Linked DNA regions of Homo sapiens: region 1 is linked to region 2. The links come from fine-mapping of genetic effects on gene expression. A gene starts in region 2. The other region holds a variant in brackets. All regions are shown on one strand. Distances are from middle to middle. Region 1 overlaps BCAS4 (breast carcinoma amplified sequence 4). Region 2 holds the start of BCAS4 (breast carcinoma amplified sequence 4).

What was found. PIP is the estimated chance that this variant, and not a neighbour inherited with it, causes the effect.
Region 1: its variant is fine-mapped to the expression of BCAS4 in whole blood (INTERVAL, PIP 0.92).

What each region holds. Positions count from the first base shown.
Region 1 is chr20:50,876,096-50,881,464 of GRCh38, reverse strand. It overlaps BCAS4 (breast carcinoma amplified sequence 4), which reads right to left. Exons shown (of 5, transcript NM_198799.4): 5 at 4,288-4,979. The coding sequence ends at 4,857. Among named protein-coding and RNA genes, the nearest start is that of ADNP-AS1, 52 kb to the left of the region's middle. RefSeq lists enhancers at 1,084-1,583, 1,584-2,085, 4,744-5,324. The variant C/T (reference allele first, on the strand shown) is at 2,613.
Region 2 is chr20:50,792,685-50,798,002 of GRCh38, reverse strand. BCAS4 (breast carcinoma amplified sequence 4) reads right to left here and starts at 2,942. Exons shown (of 5, transcript NM_198799.4): 1 at 2,830-2,942. The coding sequence starts at 2,919. RefSeq lists a silencer at 2,390-3,209.

The sequences.
Region 1 (5,369 bases), 83 kb before region 2:
TCCCTTTGTAGCATGAGATGCAAATATATTTTCCCAATTTGTCATCTATCTTTTGAATTTGCTTAGGATTTTGTTGTTTTGGGATTTTTTGGTTGAGTTTTCCGTTGGTTTTGCCATGCAGAAGTTTAAAAATTTTATATAATCAAATTGACCTCTTTTATGGCTTCTCGATTTTGTACACTTCGCCAATGTTTTTAACCTATTTCTTCAATAGATTCGTTTTATTTTACTTTCTAAGACAGGGTAACACTTTGTCACCCAGGCTGGAGTGCAGTGGCACAATCTCAGCTCACTGCAGCCTCAAGTTCCCTGGCTCGAGCAATCTTCCCACCTCCCACCAAGTAGCTGGGTCTATAGGCAAGCACCACCATGCCTGGCTAATTTTTCTATTTTTTACAGAGAAGGGGTTTTGCTATGTTGCCCATGCTGGTCTTGAACTCCTGAGCTCAAGCGATCCACCCACCTTGGCCTCCCAAAGTGGTAGGATTCAGGTGTGAGCCACTGCACCCGGCCAATAGATTCATTTTATACATTAAGCTCCTAATCGATTTACAATCCAGGTGTGCTGAGTGAGGTATGGAGCTCTATTTTTTCCAGAAGTTTACCCAATTGTCACAACATGAAAACATCTTAAAACAATTCAGGGCAAACCACACATTTCTGCCAATCAGATACAACCCCATGGGCTGCTACCTTGAAACCTCTTGCTTTGGTGAGCACGAAGTTCACATCCGCTGGGAAAGTGGGAAAGGGGGTTGACCGAAGAGCCTTGCTCTTGGGAAGAAATCTGCAGTGACCTTTCTACTGGTGTCCCTGTCCAACATCAGCCACAAAAGAAAAAGACTGGCAGGCCTCGGTGGCTCACGACTGTAATCCCAATACTTTGGGTGGCCAAGGTAGGAGGATCGCTTGAGCCCAGGAGGTTGAGACTAGCCTGGACAACATAGCAAAACCCCGTCTCTGTTTAAAAAAGAGAAAGATCAGATCACCCTTTCCTAGGCTGCAGTTACCCTTACCAAGGGGTTAGAGGCCATCAATAGTCAGCAACCGAGGACATCATTGACTGGACAATGGAAATGTCAGGCACTTTGCTTTAATGAGGACGCACATGAAGTCACCTGGCACAGGGACAGTGGAGCCGCTCAGAGGACTGAGGTTAGGGGTTGGTGATGGCAGGGCGCAGTGTCCCGGCCTTCCTTCTCCCCAGATGTTTCCAAGCGTCCCTTAAAGCTCATTGTTTGGCAGTGCAAATCCTAGGAACTTTGGAACGGCTACTTCCAGTTCACTTGTCACCTTTTCCCCATAGATTTCCTGTGCAACCTCACCCCTCCTAACAGGACAGGGAAACCCAGAGAGAGCAGCCTCCATTCTCCCATGACTTCTAACTCTGACACGTAAGGGCAGTCCCTGAGTCACTCGCTGTTCAGGCCCTCGGATGCCGCTGGTCAACTGAGAAACGCAGGACAATCAACCCTTTCCCCATCACAGCCCGGGCCCTGCAACAGCAGCCTCCCATTACTGAGAGCCCCTCGCCAGTGTGCCCAGCATGCACACAGCTCACCTCATGTCACCCTCACCACAACCCATCAGACCAGAGCCATCCTCATGTCTTACCGCAGGGGCAGCTGGACTCAGAGAGAGCAAGTGAAAAGCCCAGCTCACACAGCTAAGAGGCATGGGAGCGGACAGTGCTGCCAGGCAGGCTAACCTCAGGGCCATGCTCCTAGCGTGGGGCCTGTGGGTCCCTGCTTTAGGACACTCAACGTTGCTGCGGCTTAATCACATGGGATTTCCTTCCAACTCTCCCTGGCCCCTGTTTCAGGGGCTGGGAGGAGAAAGAAGCCTGGGAGTGCCCAACACTCAGCAGATACTCACCCTTCCGGAAATGAGTGTCCTCAACTGCTTGTCTAAAAAATTAACATTAGCTTTCTCCTTTTTCTTCTTTTTTGAGATAGGGTCTCGCTCTGTTGCCCAGGCTGGAGTGCAGTGGCACGATCTTGGCTTGCTGCAACCTCCACCTCCCAGATTCGAGCGATTCTCCTGCCTCAGCCTCCCGAGTAGGTGGGATTACAGGGGTGCACCACAGCACCTGGCTAATTTTTGTATTTTTAGTAGAGATGAGGTTTCACTATGTTGGCCAGGCTGGTCTCGAATTCCTGACCTCAAGTGATCTGCCCACCTTGGCCTCCCAAAGTGCTGGGATTACAGGCGTGAGCCACCTCACCCGGCCAACTTTCCATCCAACGTGTGCTCTCCCTGAGCACACTGGGGCATGCAGAGTGTCCAAGCTCCCTTCGATAAAAACAGTCCCAGCCAATACAACACAGCCATGGGAATGATCTACAGTGACACAGCAACAGTGACACCTCCCAAGGTAACATCAAGCCGGTGAGGCCAGAGACAAGAGATGACACACCGTAGGTACACATCCCGTGTGTCCTCTCTTTATACAGAGCACAGAAACAAGAAACTCCAGTCCATATGGTTAGATGTCAGTATGCTGTCAGCCTGGGGTGGGGGTGGGTATGGGCATGGACCAGAAGCGGGCATGAGGGGGCTGCTCAGTGCTGATAATGTTGGTTGCTCAGTCTGGTGAGGCTTAAATAGATACA[C/T]TCAGTTTGTGAAAAATTTAGTGAACCACTTAGGCACCCCTTTCTGTAATATAAATTATACTTCAATAAAGGTTTGTGCCAACACTACATTTTGGGAGGCCGAAACAGGAGGGTCCCCTGAGCCCAGAAGTTCAAGACCAGCCTGAACAACATAGGGAGACCCTGTCTCTACAAAAAATAAAACAAATTTGAAAAGTTGCCAGGCATGGTGGTGCACATTTGTGGTCCCAGCTACTTGGGAGGCTGAGGCAGGAGGATCACTTGAGCCCAGGAGCTTGAGGTTTCAGGGAGCCATGATCACACCACTGCACTCCAGGCTGGGTGACAGGTGTCTCATTTAAAGAAAAAAAAAATTGTAAAAGTCACCTCAATAAAAAAATGCTGACCGGGCATGGTGGCTCACACCTGTAATCCCAGCACCTTGGGAGGCCAAAGTAGGAGGATCACCTGAGGTCAGGAGTTCGAGACCAGCCTGACCAACATGGCGAAACCCCGTCTCTACTAAAAATACAAAAATTAGCTGGGCGTGGTGGTGTGCTCCCGTAATCCCAGCTTCCTGGGAGGCTGAGGCAGGAAAATAGCTTGAACTCGGGAGGCGGAGGTTGCAGTGAGCTGAGATCATGCCACCGCACTACAGCCTGGGTGACAGAGTGAGACTCCATCTCGAAAAAAAAGAAAAGAGAATAAAAATGCTGACTTTTCCAGAAACAAGGGGTCTACCTATATCTCTGAATTCCAAAAATTGTCTAAACTATTTCCCTGCTTTTCTGTTTTTAATTTTTAAAAACATTTTTAGCCAAGATCTCACTTGGTTACCCAGGCTAGAGTGCAGTGGCACAATCATGGCTCACTGCAGCCTCAACCTCCCAGGCTCAAGCAATCCTCCCACCTCAGCCTCCCAAGTAGCTGGGACCACAGATGTGCACCAGCACGCCAGGCTAATTTTTGTATTTTTGGTAGAGATATGGTCTCATTATGTTGCCCAGGCTGGTCTCAAACTCCTGGGCGATCTGCCTGCCTCGGCCTCCCAAAGTGCTGGGATCACAGACATGAGCCGCTGCACCTGGCCTCTACTCTATCTTGCCAGATTCATTATTTTAGGCTTCCTTGAAAAACTTTTTTGGGGTGTGGGGGACAGGGTCTTGCTCTGTTGCACATGCTAGGGTGCAGTAGAACAATCACGGCTCACTGCAGTCTTGACCCTGTGCATAAGCGACCCTCCTGCCTCAGCCTCCCAAGATGCTGGGATTACAGGCATGAGTCACCTTGCCCAGGCAGATTATCTTGAAATTCTAATGCAGATTTACAGTTCAGTCCTGTATGTGCATAGGGGAATTATGTGTGTGTTCTTGGCTCTTCGAGGAATTCCAGAAATACCCATTGCAGGTTGAAGCCACAGTGAGAAATCCGGAGTGTTAGGACAATAGCAGGAAACTCATCTGCATGGGAAGAAATGTGGGTAAACAAGCCTTTGAAGACCCTGGGGGTCCTAATGACCTCTGCACTCTTGCTGGAAATCCAAAGGCCGGGACTACCCCTCCCTCAGCTGGAGCCTCATCAGCAGGTGCCCAGGATCAGGCCCTCGCAGGTGAGGCACAGGAGGAACCTTCTAGAAAACACTGCACAGGTGAAAAGGAAACTATCACTCCCCGTCATTCTCACACCAGACCAGGGCTGAGCTCTTGACACCTTTATTGGAAGGATCCTCAAGGCTGTGGGCACCGAGGTCTGGAGGCAACAGAAGCAGCATCCACCCACCCACCACAGTGGCAGAGCACACCCCGTGCAAAAACCCATCACAGAGAGAAGGACCATGGAGCCCCTGCAAAGCCATCATGGAGAGAAGGAAAGTCCCCACTGTCCATCAGCCCCGGCCAGGCCTGGTCCCTCAACCCCTGTAGAACCCCAAGCAGGCCGATGTGGGAGGCATCACCACACGTGGGTTCCAACTGCTTCTCCAAACCCTGTGGTCTCACATGAGGCAGGGAGGAAATTTGAAAATGGCAGCAGCCTGGGCACGGAGGCTCCTGCCCATAATCCCACCACTTTGGAAGGCCAAGGTGGGTGGATCACTTGAGCCCAGGAGTTTGAGATCAGTCTGGACAACATAGTGAGACCCCATCTCGACATTTTTTTAAATATTTTTAAAATATAAAATAAACAGCAATACAAAGAAAAAACCCCCAAGCTGCAGTGTGTACACAATGTCACTTTCCAGCGTTCCTGATGGGAAGACCACAAAGCTCACAAAGGCCGAGGGCAGGTGCGGGGGTGGTGCTGTGCTTCCCCGGCGTCCACAGGAAAATAGTCCTCCGTCCTATACAGTGTGGGCAGCTCGTACGTCACGGGCACCGGTGCAGGTGACTTCTGGAATGACAAGAAATGAAGCTCTATCAGCGATTTGGATCCACTTGTTCCATGACCCAGGAATTCCCGGTCTACAAGTTCATCCTGCAGGACTCACACATATGACCAAAGACTCTGAGCTCCTCTGACAGCACTGCCTGTGACAGCCAAAGCCGGCCACCCAAAGGGACCAAGGCATCCATGTCAGGCCCTCTCCACAATGGAATACTCTGTAGGCATCAAGAAGAGCCAGGCAGCCCAGGCGCAGTGGCTCATGACTGTAATCCCAGCACTTTGGGAGGCCAAGGCAGGCGGATCACTTGAGGTCAAGAGTTTGAGGCCAGCCTGGCCAACACAGTCAAAGCCTGTCTCTACTAAAAATACAGAAATTAGCCGGGCATGGTAGCGCGC
Region 2 (5,318 bases):
TTTCATGTGGCTCCTAGAACACTAAAAATTGCGTAGGTGGCCACGCACAGTGGCTCACACCTGTAATCCCAGCACTTTGGGAGGCCGAGGCGGGCAGATCACCTGAGGCTAGGAGTTCGAGACCAGCCTGACCAACATGGAGGAACCCTGTCTCTACTAAAAATACAAAATTCGCTGGGCGTGGTGGCGCATGCCTGTAATCCCAGCTACTCGGGAGGCTGAGGCAGGAGAATCGTTTGAACCCAGGAGGTGGAGGTTGCGGTGAGCCGAGATCACACCATTGCACTCCAGCCTGGGCAACAAGAGTGAAACTCTGTCTCAAAAACAAAAAAAATTGCATAGGTAGCTCACATTTGTAGCTCCAATTATATTTCTATTGGACAGTGTTTATGGATACATGCTCATGTTATTTTTAATTTTTAAATTTTTGTTCGTGTTATTTTTAATTTTTTATATTTTAACATTTTTTTGTAGAGACAGGGGTTTCCCTGCGTTGCCCAGACTGGTCTTGAACTCCTGGTCTCAAGTGATCCTCCCACCTCAGCTTCCTAAGTCGCTGGAATTACAGGCATAAGCCACTGTACCCTGCCTCCATGCTATTTTTTTAAATTGAGATATAATTCACAAACCACAAAATTCACCCTTTCAAAGTGTACGATTCAGCAGTTTTCAGTATATTCACAAATTTGTGCAACCAACACAACTATCTAACATCCAGAACATGTTCATTACACCAAAACGAAGCCCCATACCTTCCCATTAGTAGTCCCCACACATTTTTCCATGCTATTTTGAGTAAAGAAAAGCAAGTTGCAGGACAGTATTACAGCAGCAAGTGAGGTTTCATTTAAAACTAATATAGATGGGCCAGGCATGGTGGTACATGCCTATAATCCCAGCACTTTGGGAGGCTGAGGCCAAAGGATCTCTTGGGCCCAGGAATTCAAGACCCGCCTGGGCAACATAGTGAGATCTCGTCTCCACAAAATAACTTTGTTTTAAAAGTTAACCTGACATGGTGGTGCGCACCTGTGGTCCTGGCTATGCGGGAGGCTGAGGTGGGAGGATCACTTGAGCCCAGGAGGTTGAGGCTACATTGAGCTATGATTGTGTCACTGCACTCCAGCCTGGGTGACAAAGTGAAACCCTGTCAAAAAAAAAAAAATTAAAAACGTCTGTTCAAAAATTATTTTAAAAATATGTGGAGATGGCTGGGCGCTGTGGCTTACGCCTGTAATCCCAACACTTTGGGAGGCCGAGGAGGGTGGATCACGAGGTCAAGAGATAGAGATCATCCTGGCCAACATGGTGAAACCCCGTCTCTACTGAAAAATACAAAAATTAGCTGAGCATGGTGGCACACGCCTGTAGTCCCAGCTACTCGGGAGGCTGAGGCAGGAGAATTCCTTGAACCTGGGAGGCGGAGGTTGCAGTGAGCTGAGATCATGCCAATGCACTCCAGCCTGGTGACAGAGCAAGACTCCATCTCAAAAAAAAAAAAAAAAAAAAAAAAAATATATATATATATATATATATATATATATATATATGGAGAAAAAGAAAAAGAAAAAAGAGAAAACTCATATATATGTATATATATATATATGGAAAGATATTTTATGGTTTTTTTTTTTGAGAGGGAGTTTTGCTCTTGTTGCCCAGGCTGGAATGCAATGGCTGATCTCAGCTCACTGCAGCCTCCGCCTCCCAGGTTCAAGCGATCCTCCTGCCTCAGCCTCCCAAGTAGCTGGGATTACACACCCGGCTAATTTTTGTATTTTTAGTAGAGACGGGGTTTCACCATGTTGGTCAGGCTGGTCTCGAGCTCCTGACCTCAGGTGATCCACCCGTCTCGGCCTCCCAGTAGTGCTGGGATTACAAGCGTGAGCCACCAGGCCTGGCGAGATAGATTTTTTTTTAAATGTCTCACTCTGTCGCCCAGGCTGGAGTGCAGTGGCATGATCAAGCCTCACTGCAGCCTCACTCTTCCCCGTCCCCTATCCCCATCCCAAGCAATCCTCCTGCCTCAGCCTCCCAGAATGCTGGGACCACTGGCATGAGCCAATACTCTGCCTAGGCAGATACAGATATCTACATTTGTAAATGCATTTTAAATGTCCGGAATGATTTATACCAAACAGTTAATGCTGGTTTTCTAAGAAAACTAGAATTGGGGTGGGAGAGAAAAGAGAAAGGGGTGCATAGCCTTTATGTTAAATACTCCTGTACTGCTTTTGTGGTTTAAAAAGAGAATGGGTTGAATTTCTGACCGTAAATAACTCCTAGTGAACTCAGACAAATAACTTTTTCACAACAGCGTCGACAGATGCCTCCAGCCGGAAGGTAGAGGGTCTCGTTTTAGATCTGCTTTTCACTTGGTGCTTTTAAAATAGAAAGCGCAGACAGAGGCGTGGTGTTTTCGCTCCGAGCTGCAGCAGCGCAGCGCGGCCCGCACAGCCGCAGCCTGAGGCGCCGCTCGGCCCGGGCACCGCTCGGAGGTAGCCGGGGCAGCAGAGGTCCCGGGGTCCGCCTCTCCCAGGGCCGGCCTGGCAAAGGGCGGCGCCTGAGGACCCGGCGGATGCTGGGGGACCCGGGTGGGGAGGGAAAGCGAGCCTGGGCCTCCGGGGCCCGGTGTCGCCCGGAGGAGCGAGCAGGGACGACCCGCTGCACATCTCTGCGTGGCGCCCCGCAGCCACCCTTCAGGAAGGGGGGAATCCCCGGGCCCCCCACTCCGGGAGCGAGAGGATGCTCCGGGGAAGCCGAGGGTCCGGAGCCCGGACCCCTAACCGCGAGAACCCTCTCCTCCAACTCCACAGCCCCGTCCCCTACCTCGGCCCCAGGCTCGGGGGTCAGGAAGAGCGCGAGCTCGCGCGCCCCGCTGCGCATGGGCTCCGGCTGATCAGCGTCCACGAGCAGCATCAGGAGGGCGACGGGGTCCGGCTGGCGGAGGCTGCCTGGGAGCCCGTGGTTGCGCCCGGGCCTCGGAGCCCCGCCCCCGGTCCGCTGCATGCCCCGCGGACCGCCTGGCGGAGGCGGGGCAGGTGCGCTCCCGGCGGTCGCGGCTCGCAGCTCCAGGAGCGCCGGGCCGAGCGGGCAGCGCCACCCAGTGGCGAGCGGCGCGCGCTGCGCCCGCCCCCGCAGCACCTGGGCATCAGTGCTTTGCAAACTCGCTTGCAGATGGCAGTCACCTGGAGCTCTTTTAGAATTTCCCAAGCCTGGACCACACCGTCTCTGGGTTAAGACCTGGGCATCAGGATCTTTTGATGTTTGTTAGGTGGTTCCAACCAGATTGTTGACCCAAAGCTAAATTTGAGAACTATTGGGGCAAGCCACCCCTCCCCATCGGAATCCCGGTAGAGTACAGGCTCCCGGCCCCGGACCCGGCCGTAAAATAGAATCCCCGGGAAGCTTTTAAAAGCCCGGAAGCCAGGCCTCGCACCAGGCCGATTAAGTTGGAATCCTTCGGAGTGGGGCTTGGGCATCGGTAGTTTCTAAAACTCCCCGGGTGATTCTAACGGGCGTCCGGGTTAGAGAGGCGCTAGCTTAGAGGAAGCCCAAAGCCGCCCGCCCCCCACCCGTTCCCATCCTACTAAAGCATCTAGTTTGCATCGGGCGGAGGGTCCTGGAATTTAGGGAAGGCCGAGTGTGACGGTCCTCGTCTTCCTCTTCGGTGCGGATTTTAAAATAAACTTCACCAGGAAACTATTGAGCGCACTACATTTCACAACCGCACCCACTCCCTCCATGCCCTCGGAGGCCGGCCTAGATAGACCCTTTACAAGCCTTGGGGCTGAAGAGAGCGAGGTGCGCCTCATCTCCCACCCCAACAGTGCTAATGAGGAAAGTACTAAAAGGCAAATAGGTATAAGACAAGTCTGAAGTTTTGATTTTTCGTTTGATGACTTATTTTTATTTTTAATTAATTAATTTTTTTTTTTTGGAGACGGAGTCTCGCTCTGTCGCCCAGGCTGGAGTGCAGTGGTGCGATTTCGGCTCACTGTAACTTCCACATTCCGGGTTCAAGCAATTCTCCCCCTCCCTCAGCCTCCCGAGTAGCTGGGATTACAGGCGCCTGTCACCACGCCCGACTAATTCTAATTTTTGTATTTTTTAGTAGAGACGGGGTTTCGCCATGTTGGCCAGGCTGCTCTCGAACTCCTGACCTCAGGTGAGCCACCTGCCTCGGCCTCCCAAAGTGCTAGGATTACAGGCGTGGGCCAGCGCCCCCTGCCTGCTGACTTTTCTTTAAATGTTAAATCGCCTCACAAAAAAAAAAAAAAAAAAAGGCTGAGCTGCTTGGGCAAACATAAGGAGACTCCATCTCTCTAAAAGAAAAAAAAAAATTAAAATTGCAGGATGTGGTGGGGCACAACTGTAGTCCTAGCTACTGGAGAGGCAGATGCAGGAGGATTGTTTGAGGCCAGGAGTTCAAGGCTACCGCGAGTTATGATCGCACCACTGCACTCCAGCCTGTGTGACACAGTGAAACTCTGTCTTTTGTTGTTGTTGTTGTTTTTTAAAAAGGAGGGGCTGGTATCAAGGGTGCAAATAAATATATAGGACGTCCCACACCTTCCTCTCCATTAAATCTGAATTTATATTGTAGTTGGCCACCCTAGGTAGGGGCCTAAACAACACATGTTTGACCTGCCTTTTGTGTAGTCCATCACTGCACAATTCCCACTTCCAAATCTGTCCACTGCTAATTTCTCCCTATCCAAATATCCAGGCCTTCAGGCCAGTCATTTTCTGGAAAATTCTTGGCAAAGACTTGGGCCTCAAGTGCTTAAGGGTTTTATAGGAACTCACTGAGCCCACACTCGGCCATTCGTCATTGTCATGATTTCCCTGATGCTCTGAGCCCTCCTCGCCATCCCCTGGGAGCCGGTCTCAGACCCTTGCCCTTGCCTGCTGGCTAGGCATCTCCCACAAAGAGCCCAGGACTGGCCTCAGATCACCAAATTGACCTGAGCACAGCAAACTTCTCCTGGTGGATAAATCTCAGAAACATAAAGCTAAGGAAGAAAAGTCGTGTTGCAGAAGGCTCTGTAGGGCACTGTGCCATTAGCACAGTTTTTAAAACACGCAGAACCACACTGTATATTGTTTATGGACACCGACAGATGGAGCAAAAGTACAAAGCTGTGCATGGGAACGACGTACCCCATGTTCCAAAAGTGGTTACTTTAGGGCGGGGGAGAAGAAACTGGAGAGGGGTATGGGAGGGAGGGATTTCTTTTTCTTTTCTTTCTTTCTTTCTTTTTTTTGTTTTTTGACAGAGTCTTGCTTTGTTGCCCAGGCTGGAGTGCAGTGGCACA